Regions from separate parts of the Homo sapiens genome. Here regions 1, 2, 4, 5, 6 and 7 are each linked to region 3. Evidence: fine-mapped expression QTL. A gene starts in region 3. Each other region holds a variant in brackets. All regions are shown on one strand. Distances are between the middles of the regions.

The links. PIP is the estimated chance that this variant, and not a neighbour inherited with it, causes the effect.
Region 1: its variant is fine-mapped to the expression of HPCAL1 in whole blood (TOPMed, PIP above 0.99).
Region 2: its variant is fine-mapped to the expression of HPCAL1 in whole blood (TOPMed, PIP above 0.99). The same link has a PIP of 0.9 or more in NK cells, monocytes, monocytes after LPS, monocytes after interferon gamma and neutrophils.
Region 4: its variant is fine-mapped to the expression of HPCAL1 in whole blood (TOPMed, PIP above 0.99).
Region 5: its variant is fine-mapped to the expression of HPCAL1 in esophagus mucosa (GTEx, PIP above 0.99).
Region 6: its variant is fine-mapped to the expression of HPCAL1 in whole blood (INTERVAL, PIP 0.93).
Region 7: its variant is fine-mapped to the expression of HPCAL1 in whole blood (TOPMed, PIP 0.99).

The regions. Positions count from the first base shown.
Region 1 is chr2:10,330,099-10,334,246 of GRCh38, forward strand. All of the region lies in intron 1 of HPCAL1 (hippocalcin like 1), which reads left to right. Among named protein-coding and RNA genes, the nearest start is that of HPCAL1, 29 kb to the left of the region's middle. RefSeq lists enhancers at 856-955, 1,486-1,685, 1,515-2,102 and a silencer at 1,066-1,115. The variant G/A (reference allele first, on the strand shown) is at 2,145.
Region 2 is chr2:10,406,803-10,410,984 of GRCh38, forward strand. The region is part of intron 2 of HPCAL1 (hippocalcin like 1); the gene reads left to right. It overlaps LOC124905972 (a long non-coding RNA gene), which reads right to left. Exons shown (of 3, transcript XR_007086211.1): 2 at 1,167-1,311; 3 at 656-1,043. Among named protein-coding and RNA genes, the nearest start is that of SNORA80B, 38 kb to the right of the region's middle. RefSeq lists enhancers at 856-2,055, 1,303-1,914, 1,915-2,527 and a silencer at 2,387-2,516. The variant T/C (reference allele first, on the strand shown) is at 1,898.
Region 3 is chr2:10,300,638-10,304,819 of GRCh38, forward strand. HPCAL1 (hippocalcin like 1) reads left to right here and starts at 2,267. Exons shown (of 5, transcript NM_002149.4): 1 at 2,267-2,540. LOC101929691 (a long non-coding RNA gene) reads right to left here and starts at 2,080. Exons shown (of 4, transcript XR_922791.3): 1 at 941-2,080; 2 at 205-376. RefSeq lists silencers at 1,802-2,581, 2,466-2,663, 2,982-3,161 and an enhancer at 2,842-2,901.
Region 4 is chr2:10,397,791-10,401,972 of GRCh38, forward strand. The region is part of intron 2 of HPCAL1 (hippocalcin like 1); the gene reads left to right. Among named protein-coding and RNA genes, the nearest start is that of SNORA80B, 47 kb to the right of the region's middle. The variant G/A (reference allele first, on the strand shown) is at 2,414.
Region 5 is chr2:10,388,078-10,392,259 of GRCh38, forward strand. All of the region lies in intron 1 of HPCAL1 (hippocalcin like 1), which reads left to right. Among named protein-coding and RNA genes, the nearest start is that of SNORA80B, 57 kb to the right of the region's middle. The variant A/G (reference allele first, on the strand shown) is at 2,347.
Region 6 is chr2:10,380,905-10,385,086 of GRCh38, forward strand. All of the region lies in intron 1 of HPCAL1 (hippocalcin like 1), which reads left to right. Among named protein-coding and RNA genes, the nearest start is that of SNORA80B, 64 kb to the right of the region's middle. RefSeq lists enhancers at 1,389-2,044, 2,045-2,698. The variant G/A (reference allele first, on the strand shown) is at 1,989.
Region 7 is chr2:10,433,886-10,438,067 of GRCh38, forward strand. No RefSeq gene overlaps it. Among named protein-coding and RNA genes, the nearest start is that of SNORA80B, 11 kb to the right of the region's middle. RefSeq lists enhancers at 1-664, 1,309-1,358. The variant ATCCTCCCTTGTAG/A (reference allele first, on the strand shown) is at 1,991.

The sequences.
Region 1 (4,148 bases), 29 kb after region 3:
CTTTTAGAGACTATGCACAATTTATGTGGCAAGCTAGAGATGCTTTCTTTTTCAGAGCGGCCTTTATGCTGTGTTCGGGGCTGTCTGTCGGCGCCACAGGGAATGGGGGCTGGTGAGTCGTGCTCAGAAGGTCCCAGTCTAGATGCTTCTGACATGGACAAAAGGAGAATTCCTGACTTTTTGGTGGATGTTTGCAATTCCCAGAATGCTTATTCTTATTTAGTCCTCATAGGAGAGTGGCGAAGGGCAGCAGCTTTGGAGCAAGGGCCACCCTGCCCCTCCCCACCAAGCCCTGAGTCGTCTAACCTTCCCGGTGTATTAGTCAGCTCTGGCTGCTGGAAACGGGGTCATAGTCTGGGTGCCTTAAACAACAGGAATTCTTTTTTTTTTACAGTATTGGAGGCTGATGTCTGAGACAGGGTGGCGGCAGGGTTGGTGTCACCCGAGGCCTCTCTCCTCGGCTCCGTGTAGCCCTTTCTCCCTCTGTTCTCACACGGCCATCCCTCCGAGTGTGTCTGAGTCCCAGTCTCCTTGTGAGGACACCAGCCCTAGATCAGGAGCCACGCAGTGACCTCATTTTACCTTCATGACCTCTTCAAAGTCCCTGTGTCCAAATACAGTCACATCTGGAGGTAGTAAGGATTGGGGCTTCCACATAGGGGTTTTGTGGGGGACACACTCAGTCCACGTTAACTCACTTCCTGCCCACGGCAGGGGCTCTCTGTCAGTGTGTCTCCGACTGCGGACCCCGATCATCTTTGTGAGAATGCAGGTTCCCAGGCCCACACCGTGCTGGTTGAGTCAGAGCTTCTGGGTGCAGCCTGGGGGTGCAGCAAGCCCACCCCTGCATTCGGAGAGCCTTAGCGGGAAGCCTGTTGCTTGTGCCTCCTTTGCAGCCCCGGCCTCTCCAGTTCTCTGTGTCTTGCCATCTTGGCTTCTTCCTCATCCCGCCTCTCGCTCCATCTCGTGGCCTCCCATCTGCTCTCCCGGCTGCAGGAGCGGTTTCTCTAAGCCTTGCAAGTGACCGCACCCTCTTACTGCATGCGGGCCTTGCCAAGAGCCTGCAGAGGGCGGGGCGGGCTCTGGGGACAGCCTGGACTCTCCTGCCTGCCCCCAGGTGCCCCCGGCCCAGCCACAGGGTGCTGGCTGCCTGTTACTCAGCACGTCCGCCTCTCCTGCCTCCTGAGCCCACAGGCGCCCTTCCTGTCACCCGAGCGCCCTCTCCTTCCTCACCTCGCCACCTACGCATCGTCACCCCTCCTCCTGCGTTTCCTCCTGTCTCCCCGGGGAGCTCGGAGTTCTGCAGGCACGGGGCTGGCTCCTTTCTTCATGTCCCTTGTCCCACAGGACACCGTTTCTGAACCCAGGAGACACTCAGGAAACCTTGCTGGTGGAACGGATGCAGCAGCGAGGTTTTCCGGGGCAGGAACACCCTCCCAGGAGCTTTTCCACGGCCAAGCGCTGGCTGGTGGTGGAGCTGCGCTGAAGTCAGTGTGTGCTTTGGGCCCAGCTGCACTGTGCCCGGGGTCCAGGGATGGGTGTGAGGCTGTCTGCCCCCCACTGCACGCCCGGCTGTCAGAGGCATCTGTCTCTTCCCCCGCATGCATCTTTCTCCCCGTCTGGCATGGTGTTTCTAGTCTTTTGTGGATGGGGACATAAACAAGCCGCCATCAACTGCTTGGTGACATTGGCCAATCCTGTGGTGGCCCCAGCTGGGCTTGCTGCCTGTGTGTGGTGAGGGTGCCCTTCTTGTCACCCGTTGTCATTTACGAGACAGCCCTGTGTCACCTGTTGATTCAGAGGGAGCTCTCCTCATCACCTGTTGTCATTTATGAGCCCCGTGTCACCTGTTGTTGCTTCACAGGGAGCACTCCTTGTCACCTATTGTCATTTATGAGCCCCGTGTCACCTGTTGTTGCTTCACAGGGAGCACTCCTTGTCACCCATTGTCATTTATGAGCCCTGTGTCACTTGTTGCTTCAGAGGGAGCGCTCCTTGTCACCCGTTGTCAGGTGTACTCACTTTGCTTCTCCCTTCCTGCTTTTGGGGACGATCACAGGACAGTGGCTTCAGAGGGGAAGTACCTCGACCTGGCTGAGGTCATGCCCAGAGCCTGACTGCTCTCTCCACCCACCCATGATCCC[G/A]TCAGCTTCTTCCCCCTCCTTCTCCATCTGATCTGAGCATTTACCATTTCCTTCCATTTAAGCTTCATTTGAGTTGCATCATGATGTTCTCCTTTTTTCAAAGTTCCATCTGCCCACAGGTTTCCATTTTCTCTAGAACCCTCCTCCTTCCTCTCTAGCCCCTGGCCCGCCCCTCTGCGGTTCTCAGGAAGCCCCTCGGTGCCCCCTGCCCCTTATCTAGAACAGCTTCTGCCTAGGGTGGGCAAGGCAGGGTGGGAGGTGGGGGGTAGCCGTGCAGGGAAGGGGTGAAGCGGGCCCCTGTACTCCCTAGCTGGGCTGCAGGCTTGGAGGAAAATAAGAGTCAGACGCTTGTTAAAACAGTGAGGACAGCTTTATTCGAGGAAAATGCAGTCGGGGTTGACCTTATCAGCAGGGGAGAGATCAGCCCAACTCCTAATACAGCAAGGAAGGGACAGAGCTGGGAAGTGGAGTGGGCTGGGTGAGTGGAAAGTAGCTGCGAGAAGACATCACAGGTAGGGGGATTCTTGCCAAAGGCAGGGGGGGACTTTGATGTCAAAGGTGGGGATGAGGACTGATTGGATCTCAAGGGTGGTCAGATGTGAAGGGCGTGAGAGGCTCACTAAACTGACTAAGCAGGATTCTTGCTGAGACTGGGCCAGGCAGGCTGAAGACAGGAGGCAGAAAGAGGGCTCAGAGGAGCCTGAGTGAAGTTTGATCTTGGGGTGAGGGGTGCAGGGGGGAGGGGCAGGGTGGGTCTTTGTTGGGGCTCTGTGGGAGATTTCAGGGCTCACTGGATGTGTGGGGCACAGTGGGCCCTGCCTGAGCCCCATGACGCCTGGACGCTGCCACCAGGGGCCTGACCTGCTGACGATCTCTGCACTGGGTCTTTAATCAGCCTCTTGGGCATTGTAAATGCTAGACAAAGATTCTTCTCTTTTTAAAGTTTACTAATTTCCCTACGATAAAACTAATGCATTTTCACAGGAGAGACTCGGGAAATTACCAAGGAGCGTGAATCAGGTGGTCACAGTGAATTGTGGATGTTTGTGTCTGTCTTGGGGAACTGGTGTAACGTTTCTCCATCTGACCCCTGCTGTCTGTTGGAGGTCAAGGAGCCAGCCTGGCCTCACAACTTCCTCCTTTCAGCAAAGTCAGGAGGCCATTCCCTCCAGGGATGGGTGGGCTGCAGCCTCTTGGCACCTCTCGGGATCCTGCTGGCAGATGTATCACCGTAGCCCAAGCCAGCCTAAGCCAGCCTCCTGTGGCCCAGCACCTTCTCTTCCCACGTGGGCAGCTGTGTTCCCAGGCAAACCTTCCTGGAATTGCTCTGTGCTCTCAGAGCTGGTGTGCTTTGGTGTTCAGCTGTGGCCATTTTGGCTTTGAGTTTGATTTGATTTTTGAAGAAAGTTTTTATTTCTTTACCCAAATATTCTATGTCTCTTTGGTAAGACTGGAAAACACAGAAAAACAGAGAAAAAAATTCCCCCATAACTACCCTGCCCACCTCCATATAACTTTTATTAGCATTCTGAGCTATACCCCTCCAGACTCATTTCTGCCTCTCCAGAAGTGTGCATAAAGTCTAGAAACATAGGTGAAGAGACCTAATGCCATCAAGAACATCAACCTGTAAAGGAATAAAATAATGTCATCTGTGTCCAGATTTTACAGATGCTTTGTAGATATGTGTAACAGAAATGTGGGTATGTTTTAGCAAAAATAAGACCATATTTTTGTTTTATTTTGATTGATTGTACTATAAATTCCAGTAGAGCATTACAGAGCCAGCCCAAGCCCATCTCTCCTCTTCTCTACTCTTTTCTTTCCCCAGTGACCAATAGCCACTCTGCGGAGGGAAGTAGGGATCATATTTGTGCGCGTTTTACGCTCTTGCTACACATGTGCGTAACCTTAAACAAAACATTAGTTTTTATGTGTTAGAAATACTCATAAATGGTGGCCCAGGCATGGTGGCTCACGCCTGTAATCCCAGCTCTTCGGGAG
Region 2 (4,182 bases), 110 kb after region 3:
TCTATGGTCTCATTTTGGTCCTGCCTTTGAGCTTCCTTTTCCTGCTGGGTTAGGGTTCCGGACGGAAGGGGAGCATTCTCTTGGGCGTTTCCCTTTTCCTGTCTCCCTGTTCTCTCCCCAGAGGCTCATGTATGTCCGTTTCACTCACCTCCCTTTCTCTGCTTGGGAGGCAGCTCAAAGAGCTCCTCTCCAAAGACTCAAGCTGGAGTGATGTTCGCTCTATGATGACGCCGCACTGGTCCAGGGAATGATCTCACTGGAGAGTAGCAGGAAGTCCCCCATCCTGTCCCCCACCCCACTGGCTGAGGACCATATAGCTGGGATGTGTTCACCTGGGAAGGAGATTGGCACCAGTTTGATAAATGGACACCCCCAAGTCTGGCATGGCCCCAAAACTCTACTCTGCTGCAGCTGTTTCCATGCCAGAAAACAGAGATTTCCAGAATACCGAGTCTGAATGTGCCTTCTTGGAGCAGCTTCAAATCTGAGCAGGAGAGCACTTGACCATCCTAACCCCTGACCTTCCTCCAGCAATTCCTAAAACTGGAAGAGTCACAGAATGTTAGAATAAGAGGGATCCTAGAAAAAGAACCACTCACTCATTGCTTTGTTCATTTGCTCAGGCACTGTGCTAGGCGCTTGGAATACACAACCATTCATTCAAACATATTTATTGACTGAATTGTGTGCCAGGCCCTGTTTTGGGCCCTGTGGGGGTACAGTGGTGAACAAAAGGAGGCAGACAGTCAAGAGATTTTGTAAATATAGTGCCAGGTGGCAGGAAATGCTGAGAAAGGGGTCAGGGTGAGGGACCAGAGGGTGAGGGTGGATGCTCTTTGAGGTGGGTCCTTGGAGGAGGTTTCCCCACGACTGTTGAGCAAGAACATGAACTTGGAGGGAGTGAGCCTTGCAGACACTGAGGGGAAGGAAGAGCAGACAGGTGGAGGGAACTGCAGGTGCGAAGGCCCTGAGGCTGGAACACGCTGAGCAGCTTCTCTGACTGGGACAAATGAAGGATTCTCCTTCCCCCAGGAGCTCCCAGTCTAATGAAGGAAAAAGACAAAGAAGTGACGCGTTCAAAGCTGAGTTCATACTAGAAAAACGCTGTTAGAATTCAAAGGGAAGAGCAGTTGTAGGGGCTGGGAAAGGCAAGCCTGAGGAGTGACCTTTGCATTGGGCTTTGGTGGATGAGTAGGGGTTGGCAGGGTGGCTGAGGCGAGCGTGCCACACGGGTGAACTCATATCTGCAGAGGCACAAGGTGTGCAGGGACAGCCACCCACACATTCCTCTTCCTGTCGCAGTAGCAGCTTCTGCAAGAGAAAGTACAGCTCTTGGGGATTTCCCTTTTCCTTTCTCCACCTCTTCCTTCTCACCAGCTTCATTTAGGGCATTTCAGCCTTGAGAGGGTGGAAAAGAAGGAGAGATTGGTAGAGGAAGGGGATTTCTGTGCCCTGCTGGGTCTCTCTCTCTCTCTCTTCTCATATGTTATGTTTTTCTTGTAAGGTTTTGGGGAGTTGTGGGGAGTTTAAGAGGCTGGGGATGGGTAAGAAGTCAAGAAGGTTTCGGTTGGATTTCTCAACAACAGGTCATTGGCCTGGAGCCCCTCCAGTGGGTAAAATGCCGTGATGCAACAGCTTTCAGGAAGGCCTCCAGAAATGAGCTCTAGGTCAGTGGGTTGGGTTTAGGTGCAGGCACGCCCTGGAACTGTCACTCTAGAGGTGTTACTAACCTCCTCTTTCCCCGGATCTGACTCAGCAGGGTTGGCTGTTCCAGCTCCAAAGAGAAGGAGGAACCTTTTCCTTCTGCAGCCCCTCCCCACCAGCCTCATTCCTTAGCTGGGGTCAGACCTGGGGTCCTCACTGCAGCTGGCCTCTGGCAGCGTTCTCAGGCTAGCCC[T/C]CCCTGCTGAAAAGAGAACCGTGTGGGACTCACAGGTAATTATGAAATACAAACGCCATGATCTTTCACTCAAGGGCACTAAGGAGTGAATAAATAAAGGATACCACAGGGTGCTAATGAGCTTGAAGAGTCCCTGTTTGGTAGCCCCAGATCCAGGGTCCCTGGTATCACCCACTGAATGCTACTTCTACCCAGCACTGCCCACGGGAAATAAAGTGGGAGACACATACCTATGTGATTGTAACTTTTTCTATAGCCGCATTGAAAAGTAAAAAAGATGAAATTTAAAACTTGTTTGATTTAAACCGTTAGATCCCAAATGGTATCATTTACCATTTCACATGTAATCAAGAAAGAGAAAGTATTAATGAGATATTTTATGTTGTTTTTTTTCATATGAAGTCGTCAAAATCCGGCGTGTATTTTACACTAAGGGCACATATATGAGTTCAGACTGGCGACGGTTTATGTGCTCAGTAGCCACGTGTGGCTGGTTGTGACCATAGTGGACAAAGCAGCCCTAGCTTATAGGTGGAGACACGGAGGCACCTGAGAGGGGCGGGGTCTCAGCTCAGGCCCTGGGAGCCTGTTCAACAGCTCCCTCTAGCGTCGGCCCAGCCACACTTCAGCCTGGATGGTCCCAGATGCATCGGCTCCTCCCTGCACCTGGGTCCTGGCAGCCGGCACAGCCTCCCCGCAATCACCCAGGGGCAAAACGGGCCCCTCCTTGGAGAACTACCGGGAAGCTAAGGCTGCAGGCAGCTTGACTGTCACTTGCTTATTTGGAGGAAAGAAGGACACAGGCCCGAGTTGTTTTGAAAAATGCAATCAGCCCTAGGAGAGGGGCTTAGCTGCAGGGGCCGTGTGGGTCCAGCGGTCACCGGGAGAAAGAACTGGGTTGGGTGCTGGATAAGAAAGAGCACAAACCTGTTTGTCTTCCACCGGCCCCTTCTGCCTTCCACCTTCCTGTTCCACCCCAGGAAGAACAAGCTCTCATCTCAAATGGCCTGAGCCCTCTGATTCCTTGAAGTTCAAATTCACAACAAACGCCTCTCCAGCCTCTTCCTGAGCCTCAGTCTTTTTTTTTTTTTTTTTTTTTTTTTTTTTTGAGACAGAGTCTCGCTCTGTTGCCCAGGCTGGAGTGCAGTGGCACCACCTCAGCTCACTGCAACCTCCACCCTCCGGGTTCAAGCAATTCTCCCGTCTCAACCTCCCGAGTAGCTGGGACTACCAGGTGCGTGCCACCGCACCCAGCTAATTTTTTATATTTTTAGTAGGGACGGTTTCACCATGTTGCTCAGGCTGGTCTTGAACTCCTGAGCTCAGACAATCCACTGCCTTGGCCTCCTGAAGTGCTGGGATGACAGGTGTGAGCCACGGCGCCCCGGCCAGCCTGGGTCTCTCATAAGCATTTGGTGTTTCCCACCTCTCTGGTCGCCTTCCCTCAAAGCATCTCAGAGTCTGGTTGGCCTGGCAAGCTTCGGGGATCTGACTGATGAAAGCATTTTGGAGCAATGGGATGAGATGCCAACCAATGCCGTCAGCCGGCACTGAGGTGGGATTAACAGGACAATCAAGCCCTCGGTTCCCAGGAGCCTCACTGAGCAGCTGCTAGAACTGTGCCACTAAACAGGCTTTAATTTACAGGCAATACCGACTCTGGGTTAACTATTTCTCACAGGGCTCCCCAGCTGCATGTTTACATTTCTTTCCTTGTTCCTCTTTTTCTTCTTCTTCTTTTTTTTTTTTTTTTTTTTTTTTTACAATTCAGCAGATTAAGAACAATAGCAGGGTAACTGAGAACCACAGAGGTGGCTGTAAGTGACTCATTAACTCCCTCTCCCATGTTTCCATCACCGTGAATTACAACGTCATCTCTGATGCCCTCAGACAGCTGTTACTAGTTTGATCCGAGCCTTGCTTGAATATGAATCTTTTTAAGCCGAGCAGGAGATGGTTCTGCTCTCAAATAGACTGCCCTCCCCTGGGCCTCCCATTTCTTACCCCACCATCCTCCTTGGAGATGAAAGACTTCCTGAGAAATGAAGGCTGGGTTTGCCTAATTACTGGAGCAAGGTGGCTGTTCTGCTGGGAAACGTGAGTGGTGGCTTTCTGTCTCTGCAGAAAGGCTTGCTTTTGCTCGGTCGTCTTACTAGACAGCCAAGCACCAATAAGGTTGGCTCCTTTGCTTAATGAATGACAGAGGGGTCACAGCAGCATGCAGCATTCCCCCCGCCCCCCGTTTCTTGTGAGGCAGCCTGCGTCGGGCCCGACAGCCTCCAGGA
Region 3 (4,182 bases):
AAGGAATGCATGAGGTTACCAGAAGCTAAGAGACAGACATGAAACAAACTGCCCCCCACATCTCTCCAAAGGGGCCAGCCCTGCCAACACTTTGATCTTGGACTTCCAGCCTCCAGAGCTACAAAACAACACATTTCTGTTGTTTAAGTTGCCCAGTTGGAGGTGCTTGTTACATTAGCCCCAGGAAATTATACAACATCTTACCTGAATTTGCTTTCTTCTTTGCTCTAGTTAAATTCAAAACTACATATTGAATAACGACGGTGTGCTCTCTCTCCATGAAGCTTCGGGGTGGGTAGACAGTCCTCCTCTTGAAGGAACAGGAGGGACGCAAGGGAAGGGACCAACTTGTATCTCATCTGAGAGAGATACACTCCTGGAATAAGAGGTCTGCGGTTAAGTGTGTTTCTCTAGAAGTTCAGAAACAGAGGAAGCATCTGCGGGCTAAGCTGCTGAGGGCTAGGTGAGAGCTAACTGACCTAAGTTTTGAAGGATGGATGGGTGACAGGTTGGAGGGGGAAGATGGAAAAGTCACATGGGAGAGGAACAGCATGGGCCAAGTGTGGAGGAACCAGTGAGTGGGCTGGGTTTCAGAAACAGGCCTTGGTCTGCTTTTGAGCCCTCCCTGAACTTTTCCACCCCAACCCCACCTCCTGCCTGTGTCTGCCATGCACCTCCCTTCCTGTGAGTCTGTGGACAGACTTTGCCCCTTTGCCCTGTGTGTGCTTGGGAGAAATCTGCTCAGTTTCTGTGGCAGGGATGTTTCTACGTGTTCATCAAACCGGCTTTGTTTACTTCCGAAACACTCATGAAGACCACAGCTGCCAGAGCCCCTTGCATCCTGGTGGGACTGTGCGACTACTTCTGGCCCATGGATGTGGGTGGAAGTGACGTGTGCTTCCCCAGGCCTGGCTCCTGGACCCCACCGACGGCTTCTCACCTGTAACCCCACCAGCCTTCTACCTGGATACTTCACGGGGAGCTAGAGTGGCCTTGGCTAAGAAGGAGGCATGGCACCCGCGGGTACCGGGCCGCCTTCATCAGTCGGTGCACTCTGGTCCACCGCCCACATGCCTTCATGTAATCTTCACTGTAGGGCCCACAGGGAGGGGAACTTCCTCGAGGTCTAGCTTTGCCTTTCCGCCTTCAGAGCCAAGTAAGAATGAGGGGTCTGGGCTCGGCCCACCTTCCCTGCAAGGCCCTGTGCCCGCTCCCCTCAAAGCTGGTCTTGCATGTTGCTCTGGCGGCCTCTGTAGCAGGAGTTCACTCTGTTTTCCGTGGAGGAGGAGTGGAAGGAGGGATTCAAGCTCTCCCCTAGAGACGCTAGAAAGACAGTTTTGTCTCAGCCTCATACGATCGCCCAGCTCCACATTTCTGGCTGTTTCTGTGGTTACCTTTCTTCGGGGATGTTTGGGGCGGGAGGTGGGTGTGTGTGTATATTTGCTCTTCTGAAGCCGTTTTTCCGGAGCTCCTGGTGGGGGTGGGGGTGCTCTGTCCCTGGTTCCTCTCGAGGCAGGTGCAGGGGATGGAGGATGCCCCCCTCCCCGAGAGCCAGGAGGCGCCGACCCTGGGCAGGAGGTGCCAGACCGGCGCCTCTCCCGCGTGGAGCTCGAAGACCACAGATGCCTGGAAGGGAGGAGCACCTTCCGTGGTTAGGTGGGGAAACCGAGGCAGAGGCGGCCCAATGGACTCGCCTAAACGGCCTGGGGAGTCACTGCAGGTAACCAGAGCTGGAGCCAGGCTTCCCACTCCAGGCCCGGGGCTCTCCCCCGAACAGGCGTGGGAAGGGGTGCGAGCTGCACGCGGGGCTGGGGCTGGGGGTGCGGGGCTGGGGCAACTCGGCTCTTCCCCTTCCTAGGCCGCCCGGGCCACTTCCTGCGGCGTGGGGGCGGGGGGCGCGGGCGCAGGGCTGGCCCCTCCCGGGCGCCGCCTCTCGGCCTCTTCTATACCAGCAGGCCAGAGGCCAAGGGTTAGGGGAACAGAACCGGTGCCCGGCTCCGCCCCTGTCCCGAAAGCCACTGGGGGCTGGGACCCGGCAGGGCCAGGTTTGGGCCGCGAGGGCCGAGGAGCAGCGAGGTGCAGGGGCTGCGAGGGCCGAGCCGGGCGCTGAGGGTCCGGCAGGGGGCGTGGAGGGGGCGGGGCCCGGAGGGGGCGGGGCCGTAGGAAACTTGAGCGCCCGCCTCTGGCCGCGCGCCCCGCCCCGGCCCCCGCCTCCGGGTCCCGCCTCCAGGTCCCGCCTTCGCGTCCCTTCCTTCCCGGAGCTGGCAGGCGGGCCGCGGCGGCGGCGGGCAGCGGACGGGCGGACTGACGGGCGCCTCCACCTTGCTCCCTCCCTGGCTGCCGGCTTCCTTTTGTCTTTCTGGGCGGCGATGAGCGCAGGGCCGGCGCAGCAGCTGCGGGCGCACGGAGGCCCGCGCTGCTAGTCACTCCTCCCGGCCTCGGCGCGCTTGTCCCGGGCAGCGGCCCGGGCCCGCTGCAGCCGCCGCCGGCGCCGAACTTGGGCTCGGGAAGCCGGCGGACCGCGTCCTGCGCCGGAGCAGGTAGGGAAGGGGCGGGCTGCGGTCTGCTGGCTGCTGAAGTGTGCCCCGGGCGTGTGCACCCGGCGTGTGCACCGGCGAGCGCTGCGATCCGGCTCTTTGCGTGTGTGTTGTGCGCGCGTGTGTGTGTCCGGGAGTGCCCGCGTTTCTCTGCGCGGTGGAGTTGTGGGTGACTGCGGACGGTGGTGTGTCTTTCGAATGGCGTGTACTCGTGGGCATCCATGTGTGCCTTAGGTGTGCACATTTTGGACTGCGTTTGTGGAATTGTGTGTCGGGGCGCAGTTGCTGGTGGGGAGCGGTGCCTGGCGGGTGTCGTGTGTGAGCAGCTGTGCGCAGAGCGGGGTGGCGGGGTGGGTGTGGGTGGTCCAGCCCCACGCCCAGAGCCCCCTGTCCCTGCTGGTCGGCGCAGTGCGTAGCTTAGGAGCCTCGAGGACAGCTGGGACCCGACGGGCAAGGGCGGGCCTCGCGGGCAGGCTGGGCAGCCCTCAGGGAACAGGTCCGTGCGGCCCACGTGGGTCGCCTGTGAGCTTCTGCCAAGGGTGGGGGCCCACGCGGAGGCGATCCGCTCGTTCCTCCCAGGGCCATGGGGCGACGAGGAGAGCCCTGGCCTCCCCGCGACCCGCACTGCGACCTGGGCCAGACGCGCCACCTTCCCCGGTCGCGGTTTGCTTCTCTTTAAAATGAGGACAGCTCCTCCCTTGGGGGCTGTGGTGACAGGTGAAATGAGAACGCACTGAAGACAGCTCTTGGTCCAAAGCCCCGCACACAGTAGGTACTGTGTTAATTGGATTAGCGTCTCCTGTTTAAAATCCTTTTTTTTTCCCCTTTATCGTGGGTGGGGCCTTACATTTTCCCCGGGCGTGTTTTGTGCCTCTCCCTGGCCCTAACTTAACCGCGAAGCACTGAGATTCGAGAAAGTTTAGCTGCCAGCTGCGCTGCCTCCTGCAGCACCTCCCGGGCGGCGCCGCCTCCGCGAGTGCCCGAGAGCGCCGCGCTGGGCGCCGGCCCTGCCCCAGCCCCCAGGCTCCCGCGCAAGCGTGGGGGTCCCTCTCCTGGCCGGGAGGCAGCGACTGCGGAGTTGAGAACCCTTTGGTTCAACAAGTTCCTAGTCCGGGAGGATGCAGCTCAGCTCGTGGAGTCCGAGAGTCACGGCGTAAAATTGGCGCTTCCCGCACATGCAGATCTCGGGCTCCCGGGGTGTCCCGGCCGCCAAAGGCCACCCCTTTCCTCCTGGCTGACCCCAATTCCACCAGAGGAGGATGTTTGCCAGGGACGCCGAGTCCAGCTGCTGGCCTCGGCATTAGACAACCCCCAGCCCCAGCCCCTGCCATCCCTGCTCCCTTGCAGCCAGCCTCATGCCGGGGGTGCCACATGGGACACCTCCTCCTAGTCCCACACCTTAATTTAAAACATTTACTTTTGAAACCTACTAGTCGTAAAATTGAACCGCAGTGAACGAGCACCCAGCTCTTACCACGACTCACTCTCTGGAGAGTTCTGGCGCCTCGGCGCTGGCTCGGACGCAGCAAGGCCAGCTCTAGGGGTCGGGTGGCTCTCGGCCAGAGCGAAGGATATTCTTTCCCTTCATCGCCTTGGTGTCTTTCTCTGGGGGAAAAAAATCGCCTTTAACCAAGGGAGCCAAGAT
Region 4 (4,182 bases), 97 kb after region 3:
CCATGCTGTGGGGCTGCCCTTCCAGCGTTGAGGGTTTGGTTTTGTTTGTAAGCAAGGAACCAGGTATGCGATGCTGGAGAGTGTGTAATTCTGGCTGTGCCTCTTCACAGCCCCTTCCAATCTCGTGCATATTAAGGTTGATAAAAACACCCTCTTCAGGGTCAATGCGAGATCAGACCTGGAGTGAAGTGTCCCTGTGGTATCTGGACCAGCAGGACCTGGCTGCCCCACAGCTCCTCCTCTCTCTCCCTCCTCCCTCTCATGGTCTCATGACTATTATGGTGACTCTTGTCACTCACCACCCTGCCCCACCTGCTCCTGCATACTGTGAGCATCAGTTGGGGCCATGGATGTAGCAAGGGTCAGCTGTCATAGGCTCCCGGGGGGACACCTGGGGGAGGGACATTTGGGGACAGAGCCCCATCTGGCCATGCCCAGCCCCTGAGAGCCCTCATCACCGACTTGCATCTGGTGAGTTTGGCAGGGTCCTGTATAAGGATTAAAGTCCTCCAAGTCCTCATACAAAGTCGCTTTCCAAAAGTCTGGAATTTTCTTGGCCCTAGACACGGGAGATGCTCTTTATAATTTTCATCTTCCCACTCAGAAGGAACCACCTTTGAATACTCAGCCAGGCTAAAATTTGGACCCAAAACCTGTTAAAGCATCACTGTCTTAATTTCAGTGTTCATGATGGGGTTCTGGGCTGTGTGAGGGGTGGAGGGCAGATACCAGTGGCAGGTTTCATCTGTGGCCCTGGTAGATGTGAGTCCCGCAGCCGGTCAGCCCAGGGCCCAGGGCAGACCCCGGGCGTGGCTGCTTTCCCGCTGGGCACCAACGCACGCACGTGGTGTTTCCAGGGCAAAGTGAGCTCCCCACCCTCTGCCCGTCCCCTGCCCCGCCCTTAGATCTGCATCCCGTGGGTGGGGTGGGTTTTCCTGCCTTCCTCTTCCTGAGGGAGGCGATTTCTCCTTCCGCTTTCTCCTTGCCACAGTAGCTGCTGGGTTGGGAGGAGACATCCAGGCTGGGGCCTCAGCCTCAGGGTGCCAGTTAGCGTGTGGTTAGCTGAGAAAAAAGTATTTTTCTCAGCAGAAAATAGACACAACTGCATGTGAAGGGGCCACTTCCACTCCTTCATTCTCCATCCACCAGCCTTACTGGAGCTAGAGAGTGGGGGAACATCTGGGTCCGTGTTACCTGGATGTCACCTGCATACAAATGTCCTGGCCCGAGGCCACTGTCAGCACGGGTGCACAGGGGAGGCGCCTGGCCCGGCAGGTCGTGCTGAGGCTGATACCCGTGTCAAGAAGCTGGAGCAGGCGAAGAGATCAGAAGAGGGTAGAGGAGGTGGTCCGAGGTGTCCATTCCCATCCCCAGACCCCTGGGGCATTTCAGTGCACGCACAGCAAATAATATCACTGCACCACCACCACCACCACCACCACCACCACCATCACCACCACCACCACCACCATCACCACCACCACCACCATCACCACCACCACCACCATCACCACCACCACCACCACCACCACCATCACCACCACCACCACCACCACCACCATCACCACCACTACCATCATCACCACCACCACCACCACCACCACCATCACCACCACCACCACCACCACCACCATCACCACCACCACCACCATCACCATCACCACCACCACCACCATCACCATCATCACCACCATCACCGCCACCATCACCATCACCACCACCGCCGCCACCACCGCCACTGCCACCGCCACCATCACCGCCACCACTACCGCCACCGCCACCACCACCGCCACCGCCACCGCCACCACCACCACCACGAGTTGAGGGACTCTGGGATCAGAAGGCACTTTCCAGCACATTCACACCATTGGCCGTGGATGTTGTGGGTCAGGTGATGGGCACTGGAAGGGCCTTCCGCTTCTCTCTGCCCCTGGCCCTTGGTCATGTACAGCAGGCCGCTCCCCGGGCAGTGGAGAAGCAGCACCTGCATACTAAGGCTCGAGTCCCAGCCTCCCCTACCAGCCTCCCTCTCCACGTCCCCAGACACTCATGCGTTCCTTCCCTTGAGGTGGGTTCATGGAGCACGTACCCTGTGTCAGACAAGCTTCCAGGCTCTGGGCTTCTGATGGAGAACAGACCAGAGTAAACCTGGCCCCAAGGACCTTGAGCTCCACTCAAGGGGAGACAGACAGTGAACTCAACAAAACAGAAATGAGAGAAAGGATCAAGCTGGAAAGGGGATAAAGAATGAGTGTCGGTTTTGGATAGAGTGCTTGGGGAAGGCCTTCCTGAGATGAGACCTGACCAAAGGCCTGCAGGAGGTCAGGGACGGGCGTGCTTCTAGCTAAGGAGCAGCTGGTGCAAAGGGCCTGTGGCAGACGTGCACCCGTGGCAAGGAGGGGGCGAGCAGGCG[G/A]CTCAGCCAGGTCGGAGTGGGTCACACCTGAGGGGCAGGACGCTGGCAACCCCGACCGCTGAGGAAGACAGGTGCGAGCAGCATCTCGGCACAGCCAGACCCCCACCATACGGCAGCCCTCTGTGTCCCTTAAATAAGGATGCCTCCTCCCAGGCTTAAGAGATCATTGTTGCTCATAGTGATTTGTGTAGCCAACAATTCTTCTGGAAGAAGTTAGATGAACAGGGCCATGGAGATTTGGGGCCGGAAGAGCAGGACCCCAGGCTTGCCTCCCCTCTAGTGCTGGCCAGGCCGTGGATCCCAGGCGGGCATCTCAGAGAGCCATCTGAGCGGCCTTTCTGGAAGTGCCCTCCTAGGCAGACGCTGGTCATGAGGCAGGGCAGCGGGGAAGGGACAATCCTCCTGTGTTGTACATTGAGGGTTATATTTAGGGTGACTTGGGATGACTTGGCAGTATCACTTCCTGTGGTCGTCCCCTCCAGCCCTCAGCCACGGAGGGCAGATCCTGTCTGACAAGCATTGTGGGCAGACACGTGCCTGCACACACGTACACACCCACATGCACACATACACACACGCACACACATACACACATTGTGGGCAGGCACAACTTGGCATTCTCATCTGCCCTGGAATTGGTGGAGGGCTGGGGACATTGTCCTGGCCCTTCTGCAGGACCGCCAGGTGCCTGGCGGGGGAATCCTAGCCGTCAGCATCTCCGGAGCATCTGCTCCATGTCGGGCTCTGTGTGAAGGGCTGCATCCAGATCCCACATGAGCAAGACCGGCCTAGCCTCCCCATCTGGTTGGGAGATGCCAGGCAGAGGTGGAAGGAAGGGCGGCTGACCTGCCCCTTAGTCTGCTCAGCCACACAGGCAGCCACAGCCGAGGCTGCACAAGGACACTCCCCTGACCTTGCTGCCTGCTGGCCCCGGGTCTCCAGGCCAGGTCCGAGCCAGCCAGGCTCCTCCCCACCCATGTCACCGGCCTCTCTAGGTGGAGTCCACAGTGATCTTTGCTCCCCTTCCCCAGGCATCCAGCACCACACCAGGCACAGGGCCTGGTATTTCTGGGACAGCCCAGATTACACGTTTTCTCTCAGTTACCCCCTAGAATATTCTTGGACTTCTCAGACCCCATGTGCAAATTTTTAGCTTAGAAGTAATCACTGGGATCATAGACGATGTTTAGCAAATATCTGTTCTTTTGGGTGTTCCTAGGCCCCCAGAGGGTCTCCGGGAAACTGGCTCTTTTGCTGAGGCTAGAGACTATCTGGGCTAGAATGTGTCTGATGGGGCTCTCGGAGGGTGCACAGACAGTGCCGCGGTGGCCGAAGATCCACTATTCCAAGGCCGGATCTGCAGAGGATTTGGAAGTTGTCTGTAAGGAGCGCCTAGATCACCCGGACCTTCTCTCTCCCTCCTTGACTTCCTTCCTGCCTCTCGTCAAACAATTACTGTGTGCTTCCTGTGTTCTAGGCGCTGTGCTAATAATTGGTTATGGGATTATTCCTAGCCACACCCTGGGTAAATGGAACCCAGCTCTCTGTCCTTGGGAAAAGGGTCAGGAGAGAACTGGGGCCCAGCTGGGAAGCTGGAGGCTTGAGGCTGCTGGTCCATGTTGGAATGCTGTCTCCCTCTGCCATCCAGCACCCAAGCCCGGCGCCAGGCTCAGAGCAGGAACTGAAGCTTTTGCTGTTGTTGTTGTTTTTGTTTTTTGAGACAGTCTCGCTGTGTCTCCCAGGCTGGAGTGCAGTGGTGTGATCTCAGC
Region 5 (4,182 bases), 87 kb after region 3:
GGTTCTAAGGTCTCCTGAGAAGGTCAGAGGCTCGTTGTCCGGCCAAGACAGACAGCAGACAGTTGGCGTGTCTCAGGGTAGGAGGCTCCCCAAATAGAAAGTACTGGATTGGGAGCGGATTTATTGTTCCCTGCCTCCCCGGGGCCGTCGGCATTTCCCCTGTGGCTGCCTCACTGTTCTGATGTTGGCAAAGGTTTGTTTTATCTTCCTCCTTCCAGAACAGGAGGTGCCTCAGTGCCTCAGATGCTGCCTGAGAAGGTCAGTGGCATCTGGGAGCCATGGTGAGGGTGGCAGTGACTGGGCTCGGGAGGTTCCAGAATTCTGTTAGTGAGCAGTGAGCTGTTTTATTTTCCTTCCTGCCTATGGAAGGTCCTGAGTGAACAAACAAGTTTCAGTCTCAAGACAACACATCGTGTTTCGAGGTGACCTGTCCCCACCCCACCCCTGTCACTGGGAGAAGACTGCAGGTCTCACGGTCTCCCGTCTGTCTCTGCTGCCCCCAGGTCCAGGGACTCCTGCGATTTCTCTCCCTGGTGCCTGGTATTTTTGTAGCACTCTCTGGTTTTCAAAGTTTTCCTACAACAATTGTGCTTAAAATGAAATATAAACTCCATCCCCAGCCCCCAAGTCCCACTCCCTGCCGACCTCGTCTCTTACTGGGAAGGCCCATCTTTGTCACCAGCAGCAGCTGTGAGTGCCTCGTCAGTGTTTAAGAGTCCAGGTCGCTGCAGCATCTTGGTGTGTACTGTGGACCCATTGTGTGTGTGCCCCCAAATTCCTGTGCTGAGACCCTCACTCCGAGTAGGATGTTATTAGGAGGCGGGGCCTTTGGGAGGTAATTTGGTCATTAGTGCCCTTATAGGAAGAGGATGCGAGCCAGACCTGCCTCTGCTGTCTACCAGGCAAGTATATAATGAGAAGGTGACGTAGGAGGCGGGACTCGACTCCAGAGGCAGGACTCAGACACCAGACCAAATTGAGGACTAGCTACAACAGGGCCAGGGTAGAAACAGCTTTCCCTAAGACGTGCCCACCAGTGTGCATGTCAGTTTACCACTGCCATGGTAATACCCGGAAGTTACGGCTCCTTTCCGTGGCAATCATCTGACGACCTGGAAATTACCACCCTTTTCCTAGAAATTTCTGCATAATCCACCCCCTAATTTGCATGTAATTAAAAGTGGGAATAAATCTGATTGCAGTGCCGCCTCTGAGCTGCTGCTCTGGGCACACTGCCTGTGGGGTAGCCCTGCCCCGCAAGGAACAGTCCCTCTGCTGCCGCTGGGCACAGCTGCTTCAGTAAAATTGCTAATACCACCGGCTCACCCTTGAATTCTTTCCTGAGTGAAGCCAAGAACCCTCCTGGGCTAAGTCCCAGTTTGGGGGCTCACCTGCCCTGCAAGATCAGGAGCCATCTGTACACCAGGAAGACAGCCCTCCCCAGAACTCAACTGTGCTGGCACCTTGATCTTGGACTTCCAGCCCCCAGAACTGTAAGAGGTAAATGTTTGTTATTGAAGCCACCCAGTCTATGGTAATTTGTTAGAGTGGCCTGGAGGAAGACACAGTATTAAGTAAGGCTTCGTGTCTGACTTCACTGAACACTGCGGTTGTGAGACGCATCTGTTGTGTGGGGCACTGAGGTTCATTCTGATTGCTTTATGGGACTCTGTTGTGACTGTACTCCAGTTTCTCTGCCCGTGGAATGTACATGGATGTTTGGATAGTTTCCAGGGTGGGGCTGGGACAAATTGTGCAGCTCTGAGTGTTCCTGCACATGCTTTGTCTTGGACATGTGTCCTTCTTTCTGTTGGACATACATGAAGGAGGTCAGCTGCTGCTTCACGGGGCATGTGTGTGGTCATCTTTAGTAAATATGCCAGTTTTTCAAAGTGGTCATAGACAGTAGATTCCTTTTATTATGTGACAAGAGCTCAAATGCCCTGGTAGTGGGAGTGGCAGCAGGAGCTACAGTAAGACATTGCACATTCTCTGGAAGTCAGGGATCCCTGCCAGTCAGTTCCCAGTGCCCCAGGAACCAGGGGTTTGGTGCTGGGCACTAGTCATGACCACTCGCGGCTCAGGTGTTGGGTGGTCTTTCCAGACCTTCACCTGTGTGAAGCTTGCAACCTGGATGGTCTCATGTGGACATCTTGGCTTCCACCCTGTGCTCTGTGTCTGGTCTCAGACCACAGCCCACCCTGGTGGTCTCCTCAGGACACATAGGCTCCTCTGTAACTCAGTTTCTTGAATTGAACAATGGAAGAAAATGCCTCTATGAAGAGAGGTCATTGTGCAAAACGTCTGTGTGACAGTATTCTTGGAGCAACTGTGCTTATCACCCGG[A/G]GGCCACAGTGGAATTAGTCATTTGAAAACCAGTCACCTCCAAAATAGTCATAATCCAAAACCATCCATCTTTGACTTCAGACTCCATTATAATTTTTTCTCCCTAAGGGACTTTGCTTTGTAATTATGTTGGATTTCCTAATATATTAAAATAATTTGTCATCTCTTGAGCACACATCTGCCTGCTATGAGCAAGCAGGAGAGGCCACTTCCGGTTTTCTGCAGGTCCCAGTGAGCATGTGAAGCCTGCGCCTGGGCAAGAGGTTGGATACTGGGAGGAAGAAGCTTTTCCAGTACCCTTTCCCAAAGACCAGCCAGTGAGGGAAATGGGCACCGAATGCACCCCACCCCCCGGCCTGGGACTGGGCCAAGAAGGAGGAACTGACCCCAGAAATGGCCCCGGAACCATAACCTGCTTACACTGTGACCTGCAGTGCCCATGGTGGCAGCCTGGGCTGTTTCTGGAGTTGAGCGGAGAGTTCCTCCAGTCTAAACTCCTTAGAGAACATGAATATTCCTGAGGGCCTGGGGTCCGGCACCACCTTCAGTGGACTGGATCACCTTCTTGAAGGCAGAGAGATCTTAAGAGCTTATGTCTGACTGCCTACCCGATGCCCAGCACTAATCTGCATGCACCCCACTGGGCCATGGGCTTCTCAAAGGTGGGGACGCTGTCCCTGTACCTAACACACATGGTGGGCACTCGGCCTAGGTTTGCAGGGCCTGCTGGGGAGTTCTCCAAGGCAGTTTTATAGCTCAGCTCCAGCACCTTCCTGGGGGCCCAGTCCTGGATTTGAGGCTGCCAGGGGGGTTTGCAGTCAGCTAAGTTGGTACCCATCCATCCCTTCCCCTCTGTAAGGGGTGACAAGCACTAAGACCTGTTATGTCCCCTGGAAGCTCTACACTCTGTCCCCTTGCTCTTGTGACTCTGCTCTTTGCTCTCCTGTCCACTGGCATATAGGAGTAGGAGGATATTGACTTAGATTCCTTTTTATTATTTTTGTTTAAATCAGCTTTGTGGAAATGTAATTCACATACCCTACCATTTACCCATTTAAAGTATACAATGTAAAGTATACAATTCAGTGATTTTTAGCATATTCACTTGTATGTGCAATTATCACCATGGTCAATTTTAGAGTGCTTTCATCACTCCAAAAGGAAACCCGTACCCTTTACCTGCTAGCCCCTCTTTCCCCATCCGCTCTTCTGCCAGCCCCAAGAAACTACGAATCTACTTTCTGTCTCTGTTCTGGACATTTTATATAGATGGAATCATACCACATTTGTCCTTTTGTGTCTGGCATCTTTCATTATATTTTTGGGGTCTTGTTGCTGTTTTTGTGACAGAGTCTCGCTCTGTTGCCCAGGCTGGAGTGCAGTGGCACGATCTCAGCTTACTGCAACCTCTGCCCCTCCAGGTTTAAGCAGTTCTCTGCCTCAGCCTCCGGAGTAGCTGGGATTACAGGCGCGTGCCACCACACCCGGCTAATGTTTTGTATTTTTAGTAGAGACGGGATTTCACCATCTTGTCCAGGCTGGTCTTGAACTCCTGACCTCGTGATCCACCCACCTTGGCCTCCCAAATTGCTGGGATTACAGGCATGAGCCACTATGCCAGGCTGTTGTTGTTTTTTAAGACGTGGTCTCGATCTATCCCTCGGGCGGGAGTGCAGTGGCATGACCATAGCTCACTGCAGCCTTGAACTCCTGGGCTCAAGTGATCCTTCTGCCTCAGCCTCCTGAGTAGCTGGGACTACCCCCATGCACCACCATGCCTAGCTTGTTTATTTATTTAGTAGCGATGAGGTCTCACTATGTTGCCCAGGCTGGTCT
Region 6 (4,182 bases), 80 kb after region 3:
CATAGTAGGAGTCCAATTAAGAATGTTTTGAATAAGCGAAAGAGTGCCTAAATGAGACTTCTATTCCAGCTTGAAGACCAGCCCACCACCCTGATAAGAAAGTTCAAGTGTGGGAACCGCTGGGGATCTTGATGGCCTGGGACCTCTGGATCAGTGCTTGTGCAGGACAGAGGCAGCCCCGGAGTTCTCATGGGGGCTGGTGAGCAGAGTGGGGCCCCAGGATGCCTGATGGCCCGGTCTGAGGTGTGCAGGTGCCCCTGAGGTGGGCACCACCCAGGAGATGCATGTATCTGTGAAATACCAGATAGGCCCTTAGTCTAAGCAAGGAGGCATCTAAGCTCCTTAAAGATTCCACAAGGATGTTACGTTGTGCTTTGAACAACAGAGACGTGGCTCTGCTGAGCCCCAGCCAAAGCTCTGCACAGGGACCTTGACTCTCCCTTCCCGCTGTGTGGCTCCAGCAAGTTTCCTCCCACCTCAGGTCTGGGTTTCCAGGCATTAAGTGACAAAGTGGATGCGACGCTCCTTCTGGACTGTAATGCGCACTGCGTGGAGATGTTCGTGTTCCAGTGTAGACAGGGCGTTGTCACATCAGGCAGGACTACAGGGACAATGTTTGTCAGCCTGTCTTCTGGGCAACTTGGGGTATCCTCCCTTTATATCACCTCCTGCCCAGGTGCTCTGCGCCGCCAGAGCATCATGTCATTTGGGATCCCTGATGGCAATTTTGAGACTTTGGTTCACAGTAAAGATTGGTCCTGTGTGATCTTAAAGTAATGTGGCTTAAAAACAAATGGCTGTCAGGGAATTGTAAATCAAAGCAAACACCGATGAGAATGGCCCAAATCCAGGACACTCAGCACCAAATGCGAGGGAGGATGTGAAGCCACAGGAAGCCTCACTCACTGCTGGTGGGAACGCAAAACAGTACAGCCACCTTGGAAGACAGTTTGACAAATCCTTAGAAAGCTAAACACACTTTTACCCTGTGATCCAACAATCATGCTCCTTGATATTTACCCAGAGGAGTTAAAAAAACTTATGTCCACACAAAAACCTGCACATGGGTGTTCATAGCGACTTTATTCACGATTATTCATAACAGCTGGAACTTGGAGGCAGCGAAGGTGTCCTTCAGCAGGTGAATGGATAAATTAGCTGTGGTGCATCCAGACAATGGAATATTATTCCACAGCACTAAGAAGAAATGAGCTAGCAAGCCATGAAAAGACATGGGGGAACTCATCTGCATATGAGTAGGTGAGAGAAGCCAATCTGAAAAGGCTATGCCTATGGAGGATTGCAACTCTATGATATCCTAGGAAAGGCAAAGCGATGGAGATAATAAACAGATCAGTGGTTCCTACGGGTTAGGAGGGAGGGAGGGATGAGCAGGCAGAGCACAGGGCATTTTTAAGGCAGTGAAACTGCTCTGTGTGATACTGTAGTGGGGGAGCCATGTCATTGCACAGTTGTCAAAACCCATAGAATATACAGCACCAGCAGTGAGTCCTAATGTAACCTACGGACTTGGGTGATAATGACGTGTGAAGAGACAAGGCGGGTTCATCCGTTGTAACAAACAGCCACCCTGGTAGTAGGGAGGGCAGGAGGTATGTAGAGAACTCTGTGCTTTCCACGCGATTTTGCTGTGAACTAAACAGCTCTAAAAAATAAAGTTCATTAATTAAAAAAAAAAAAAAAAAAAAGGGAAATGACCACATGCAAAGCACTGCGTGGAGGGCCACGCATCCCAAGCAAGTCAGCTAGAGTAGAGGCAGGAACCAAACAGCTCTATGAGGTTCTGGATGAGAAGCCGCATGCACCACCCCCTCCCTGCTCCCGTGTGGGACCCAGTGAAGACCTCCTGTGCCCGGCTGCAGCTGCTGAGTGTGGGAGTGTGCTCTCCACAGCAAACCAGCCGTGAAGGCTGCACACCTTCCTGTTTCTGCCCAGCCACACCACAGGGCACTCAGCCCTTTTCCTGA[G/A]CACTTGAAGCTGCGTTTCCTCGAGCTCCTTCCTGTTTAAGAACAGGAGGGGAGTGGCGGCTCGCTTGTGCACCACTCTCCAGGGCAGTGGTGTGCGGGACACCCTGCAGCACCTTTGACTCCTCCTCTGGGAATGAGGCGTGGTTTAATCTGCAACCCCTTACCATTAGAGTCTGCAACTAGTCAAAAGGTGAATCTGGCTGGGCGCGGCGGCTCATGCCTGTCATCCCAGCACTTTGGGAAGCTGAGGCAGGAGGACTGCTTGAGCCCAGGAGTCCTGACCAGCCTGGGCAACATAGTAAGACCTCCTCTCTACAAAAGTAAACAAAACTAGCCTGGCGTGGTGTCATGTGCCTGTGGTCCCAGCTACTCAGGAGGCTGAGGTAGGAGGATCACTTGAGCCCAAGAGGTTGAGGCTGCAGTGAGCCAAGATCGCGCCACTGTGCTCCAGCCTGGGTGACAGAGTGAGACCCACCCCCCTTTTTTTTCAGACCGCATCTTGCTCTGTTGCCCAGGCTGGAGTGCAGTGGCACGATCTCGGCTCACTGCAACCTCCACCTCCCAAGTTTAAGCAATTCTTTTGCCTCAGCCTGCCAAGTAGCTGCGATTACAGGCACCTGCCACCACACCCAGCTAATTTTTGTATTTTTAGTAGAGACTGGGTTTCACTATGTTGGCCAGGCTGGTCTCAAACTCCTGGCCTCAAGTGATCTGCCCACTTCAGCCTGCCAAAGTGCTGGGATTACAAGTGTGAGCCACCCAGCCCTGAGTGAGACCCTTTCTCAAAAAAAAAAGAAAAGAAAAGAAAAAAAAGGTAAATCTAAGAGGTGACCAGTAGGGGAATATATTTGTCGAGTCTCCTCACCTCAGCACTGTTGCCATTTGGAGAAGCATAATTCTTTGGTGTGTGCGGGGAAGGGGGGGCTGTCCTGTGCATTGTGGGGTATTGAGCAGTATCCTTGGCCCTACCCATAAGATGCTGGTAGGCATGTCCCCTCAACTCCCCAGTTGTAATAACCAAAAATATCTCCAGACATTGCCAAATGTACCCGGGAAAATCACTCAGGTTGAAGTCACTAAATTATATGTGTGTACATATAATTACACATGCATATACATCGCGTACACACACACACCCACACACACACACACCTTTTGCTGGTGGCTCTGGATTGGTAAGCTGGCTCCATGGCAAGAATCAGCATCCTAATACTTGCCCCACCCTTTAAAATAAACTTCCCAATCCTAGGCAGACAAAAGAACAACCCCAGACCTCCTCCCTCAGGGTGGGGACAAGGTGAGGGAGGTGGCGGCCCGGCAGGAAGGTCATTTCTTTCTTCAGTCACATCAGATGAGCTGCTTCCCCTCACTAGGAGTGGATGGGGCTGCCAGTGGTGTTCTTGCAAAATACCCCTTGTGGGAGGAGAGGGGTGGAGGGAGAGAACACCCTCCACACATCCCCGTGGGATGTCTGGAGGGAAGGGTTTTGGGCACCCACCCTGGGGAGAGAGGAGAGCCCAGGTTACCATCTGTGGTGTCCCCTCGCTCACACTCACTACTGCCCTCCACAAACTGCCATGCTTGCTTGGTGCACGGTGCTGTGCTGGGCACTGGGGCAAGGCCCCCTCCCCCATGGGGCTACAGATGCTAATCTGCAAATCCCAGAAAAGTGGAATCTCGGTGGCAGAGTGGATGAAGGGGAGGTGCTCAGTGCTATGAAAGCCAGCAGCTGGGAGTTTCAGGGGCTTCCCTAGGGAGGGACCCTGAGCTGGGGTCTGAAGGAAGAGCAGTTCACTGGGGAGTTAGGGAGTGTTCTAGGCAGAGTAAACAGTGCAGTGGCAGCCGGGGCTGGCACTTTTAAAGAAAGCCTCAAGACTTCTCTTTCTGATTGTGAAGTGAGCTGAGCAGACTGAAATCAAAGATGTGAAAATAAAGATAGAGGCGACAGGCTGGGTGCGGTGGCTCATGCCTGTAATCCCAACGCTTTGGGAGGCCGAGGTGGGTGGATCACAAGGTCAAGAGATGGAGACCATCCTGGCCAACATGGTGAAACCCCGTCTCTACTAAAAATACAAAAATTAGCTGGGCATGGTGGCACACGCCTGTAATCCCAGCTACTTGGGAGGTTGAGGCAGGAGAATCACTTGAACCCGGGAGGTGAAGGTTGCAGTGAGCCAGCCTGGCGATAGAGCAA
Region 7 (4,182 bases), 130 kb after region 3:
CTGGGCTCTGGGCACCCTGCTCCCCTTCCTGGCCCACCTGGGCCCACAGTGGCCTCCCTCCACACTGAGCTTCCCTGCACCAGGCCTGTCCTAGGCCTCCATGTCCCCTCCTCCAGAGGTCGCCTTCGGTGACCTCATCAAATTACTCTGGTCGTCTCCACCCTGAAGCCCTGCGAGGCTGCTCAGGAATGAGTGGGGATGAATGAATGAAGGGAGGGTCAGCAGGTGGCTCTGCTCTGTCTTCACGCAGCTGGAACCGCATGAGCTTATGCCCTGGACACACACTGAGACCCAGGCCAAGTCCCAGCTCCACCTCGAATGAGCCGCCTGGCACTGGACAAGCGCTGTGTCTTCATCTGTAAACCATGTGGTCAGGGAACCAGGGGCAGAGGGAGGGGCTGCAGGGCCTTGAGGGGAATGGCAAGGGTCCTCAGGGGCAGGACCTGACCTCCAGGTTCCTGGGGACCTCCGAAGGTGGGGGCCCCAGGGTTAGGGTCAGGCACCCTGGCAGGGATGGCAGAGCATGGGAGCCATGTGTGCGGGTGTCTTGTGGGGTGTGTGTGAGGCTGGGGCATGTGGTCTTAGTGTGCGCTGTGGATGTGTGTGGTGTGTTTGCATGTGTGGTAGTGTGTGGGGGATGGGGAGGGCGGCACAGGCAGCCTCAGGTGGGCTCTGCCTCTGGCTCAGGGACAGGTGCCAGGCACCAGCCCCACAGGAGGGGTGGCGGGGGGAGATCTGCCCTCCGCCCACTCAGCCTATCATGGGGGGTGGTCAGGGGAGGCCGGGTGGGGTCACCAGTCGCTGGTGGGCACAGGGGAGGATTGGGAACACCTCAGAGGGGATTGGGGCCACTTCGGGGACGGGCAGGGGGACAGGCAGGACCAAGGCTGCAGGGCCCCACCAGCTGTACACAGGGCTGGTTCTACAACATGGGGCAGGGGTGCAGGGGCTGGGCTGGGGGCTTCACCTGGGGGGCCTCAGGAAGTGTTTTGGGGGTCAGGGGAGTGGTCTGGTCGGGGACTGGGCTGCCTGGTGCCCCTTCCTCAAAGCCCCCGGGACCCTGGAGTGGCTGAGTCGGGAGCTCTGGATCGAGGCCACGCTCCAGTCTCACAGCCCTGTGGCTGTCAAGGGCCCCCTGCGATAGTGGAGCTATCAGTGTTTGCCCAGTGGTCGAGTGATTTGACTGCCTTTTCCTGGCCCCGACCGCGCTGCCACCGCGGGGTGCTGCTGCCCCCTGGTGTCCATAGCTAGGAGGGCCATCCAGGGCTTGGGTGTGCGGGTTCCAGCTGGGCCTGCTTTCGAGAAAAGCTTTCTGTCCTGGGCGGCATTTGATGACAGAGGAGGATGCTGAGGCCCAGAGGAGCCCCTGACTTGTGGTGGGCCAAACGGCACACAAAAGCTGAGGCCAGGCTCCCGGTACCCAGGACCAGAGGCCTTATTGCCAGATAGGAATGCCAGATACAATACAGGGCACCCAGTTACACTTGAATTTCAGATCAACGAGAAGCAATTTTGCAGCTGACATATGTCCCGTGCAGTATCTTATCTTTGTGCTAAGTCTGGCAACCCTCCTTGAGAAGCCAGGGAGTGGGGCCTGCACAGCCCTGGGGCGGGTGAGAAGCTGGAAGGGCCAGGCCTTCTGACAGGCACCCCCAGGGCCAGGTGCATGACCCTCCTGGCGGAACCACCCAGGCCCAGACTGACCCTCGCCCAGCAGGGCACCAGGTCTCCTCCCCTGCGGAGCCACCCCCGAGCTGGCCCAGCCTGGAGACCCCCGCTCCCCAGCTCACAAGCTCACGGGCCTGAGCTCCACAAGTCACCTGACTGAGCTCCACCTAGGTAACCCCTGGCCAGTGGCAGAGCACGCCTGGTCACAGCCCTCTCCAGCCTGGAGTCAGTGCTGCATGTGGATAAAATTCTCCGAACTCCCAACAGCAGCAAGAATTCCGGAGGCGCTTCCACTCTGTGCCCTGCATTCGGGCCTTCACCA[ATCCTCCCTTGTAG/A]CTGCCCTGCCGTGGGTGGGGGGCACCAGCTCAACCCCCACTCAGAAGGAGGCGGCCGTGGGGACCCCTGTGCCTAGTGAGGCATAGGGCCTGGGTCTGGCTAGTGCCTAGTGAGGTGTGGGGCCTGGGTCCAGCTTCGTCTGTCCAGCTCCAGCCGAAGCTGAAGCCACAGCAGGAATGCAGGGCCAGGTGCCACCGTCTGTGGTATTCCGGAGCCATGGGTGCTCGGGGCTGCCTCTGCCACCCTGGCAGGGAATAGGATTGGCAGAGAGCAGGGGCCGGGAACACGTTGCCCTTGGTGAGAGAAGGATGCCGCATTCTAGTCATGGTCATTGTTCAGCAAGAGCCCAGGAGCAGAAGCTGGCTGGCGAGGCAGGGCCCTGAGGACACCCAGGCCCTCCTTCTAACTTACAGACTCGCCTTGGACGAGTCACTTGGCCTCTCTGGGCTTCATCCCATCTGTAAAAAACAAGAACTGGGAGAACTCTGCAAAGCCTTTGCTTCACATGACGTCCTACCTTGAAACCCGATGGGTGAGATTGGGTGAGGCGGAGAAGGCAGAGCCCCCCACTTGCCCCCCTCACCCCCAGGCACTGAGGCTTCTCGGGAATCCCTGGTGGGGACAGAGCCCGATTTGAAATGGGTCGACTCTTGCCTTCAGGGGCAGTTTTCCAGCCGGGCCCAGAGATGGTGCAAAGCAAACCCCCAGATCCAGCATGGGGGAGGGCCCATGTCAAAGAGGGTACAGGGTGACAGCCAGAAAACCCCCTAAGCGGAAGGGGCTAGCCAGCCACTTCGAGTCACTTAGGAAAATCTAGTAAGGAGGGAACCTGCGAAGAGATGTGTGGTCCCAGTAGCAGAGGTCACTGCTGGGGTGTGACGAGCACATGACTTCACAAGACAAGCCGAGTGAGGCCCGGGAAGGGGCAGGCCCTACCCACGAGAAAGTGCAAAGTGGGCATCAGCCAGGGCTCAAGAGGGCCGCAGGGGGCACACGTGGCTTGCTCTGCCCACCGGCTTCTGGCCTGCCCTTGGTTGCTGCAGGCTATCTGTGAGGGGCAGTGCCTGGCCCTGACACTGTCGGGGAGGGAGGGGTTGACCACCTGCTGATGTGCCAGGAATGTTCCCATCTTTGGCTTCTGATGGGTCTGCTGCCTTCGTCGGCCTCATGAGCTGGGTTGGCATGAGCCAGCCCTCCTGGACCCTGCAAAGGTGAGGACCAGGTCGTGAGCAACTCTACCATGTCCCCCTGAGCCAGTCCACTGCCCAAGCCACCCTCCAGCTGCTTAACAGCATGTTCCCAGGGTAGGGAAACACCGAATGAATGCTGGGGTCCTCTGACCTGGCTTGAATGCTGCCTCACTATCTGCGTGACTTGAGTTCATCTCTGAGTTTATGTCTTCACGCGGGAAACCTATTTTACAATCCTCGTAAAGTCAGTAATACATTCCAATATCAAAAGCGCAGTGTGGAGCCAGTCCCCACTCTCGGCCCAGGCCTCTGGTTCTTCTGCCTAGAGGCAACCTCTGTTACCCGTTTCTTACAAGCTCTTCCAGAAATATGCCATGCATATGCAAGTATGTATGTACACACACAGTTTGTTGGGGTTTGATTTTGCTTTTTACACACACAGTAGCATACTACACGTGCCCCTTGCTTTGCTATCCTCACTGAATCTAGCTTGGAGCTTGTTCCTTATCAGTACTGATGAATCTGCTTCATTCCTTAACCACTGTATATCCCGTTCCATTGACAATTTCATCAGTACCTGCTTGTGTACAAGAGATTGTTTACAAATGATGCCACAATGAATAATTTTAGAAGAGTATCATCAGAGAAATTCTTAGAACTGCTGGGTCAAAGATAATGTGGATTATTGATATTATCAAGTTCCCTCCAAAGAGACTGTTGCTCTAATTTACTTTTCCGCCCAGTGCTTGAGCACACCTGCTCACCCCGCGAGCTGGGGAACTCTTGTCTTTGCCAATCTGATAGGTGAGAAATAGATTCTCATAGTTTTACTGTGTGTTTCCTTTGGTTGACAAATGTCTTCATGTTCAAAAAGTTTACTGTTGGCTGGGCGTGGTGGCTCATGCTTATAATCCCTGCACTTTGGGAGGCAGAGACGGGTGGATCACTTGAGACCAGGAGTTCAAGGCCAGCCTGGCCAACATGGTGA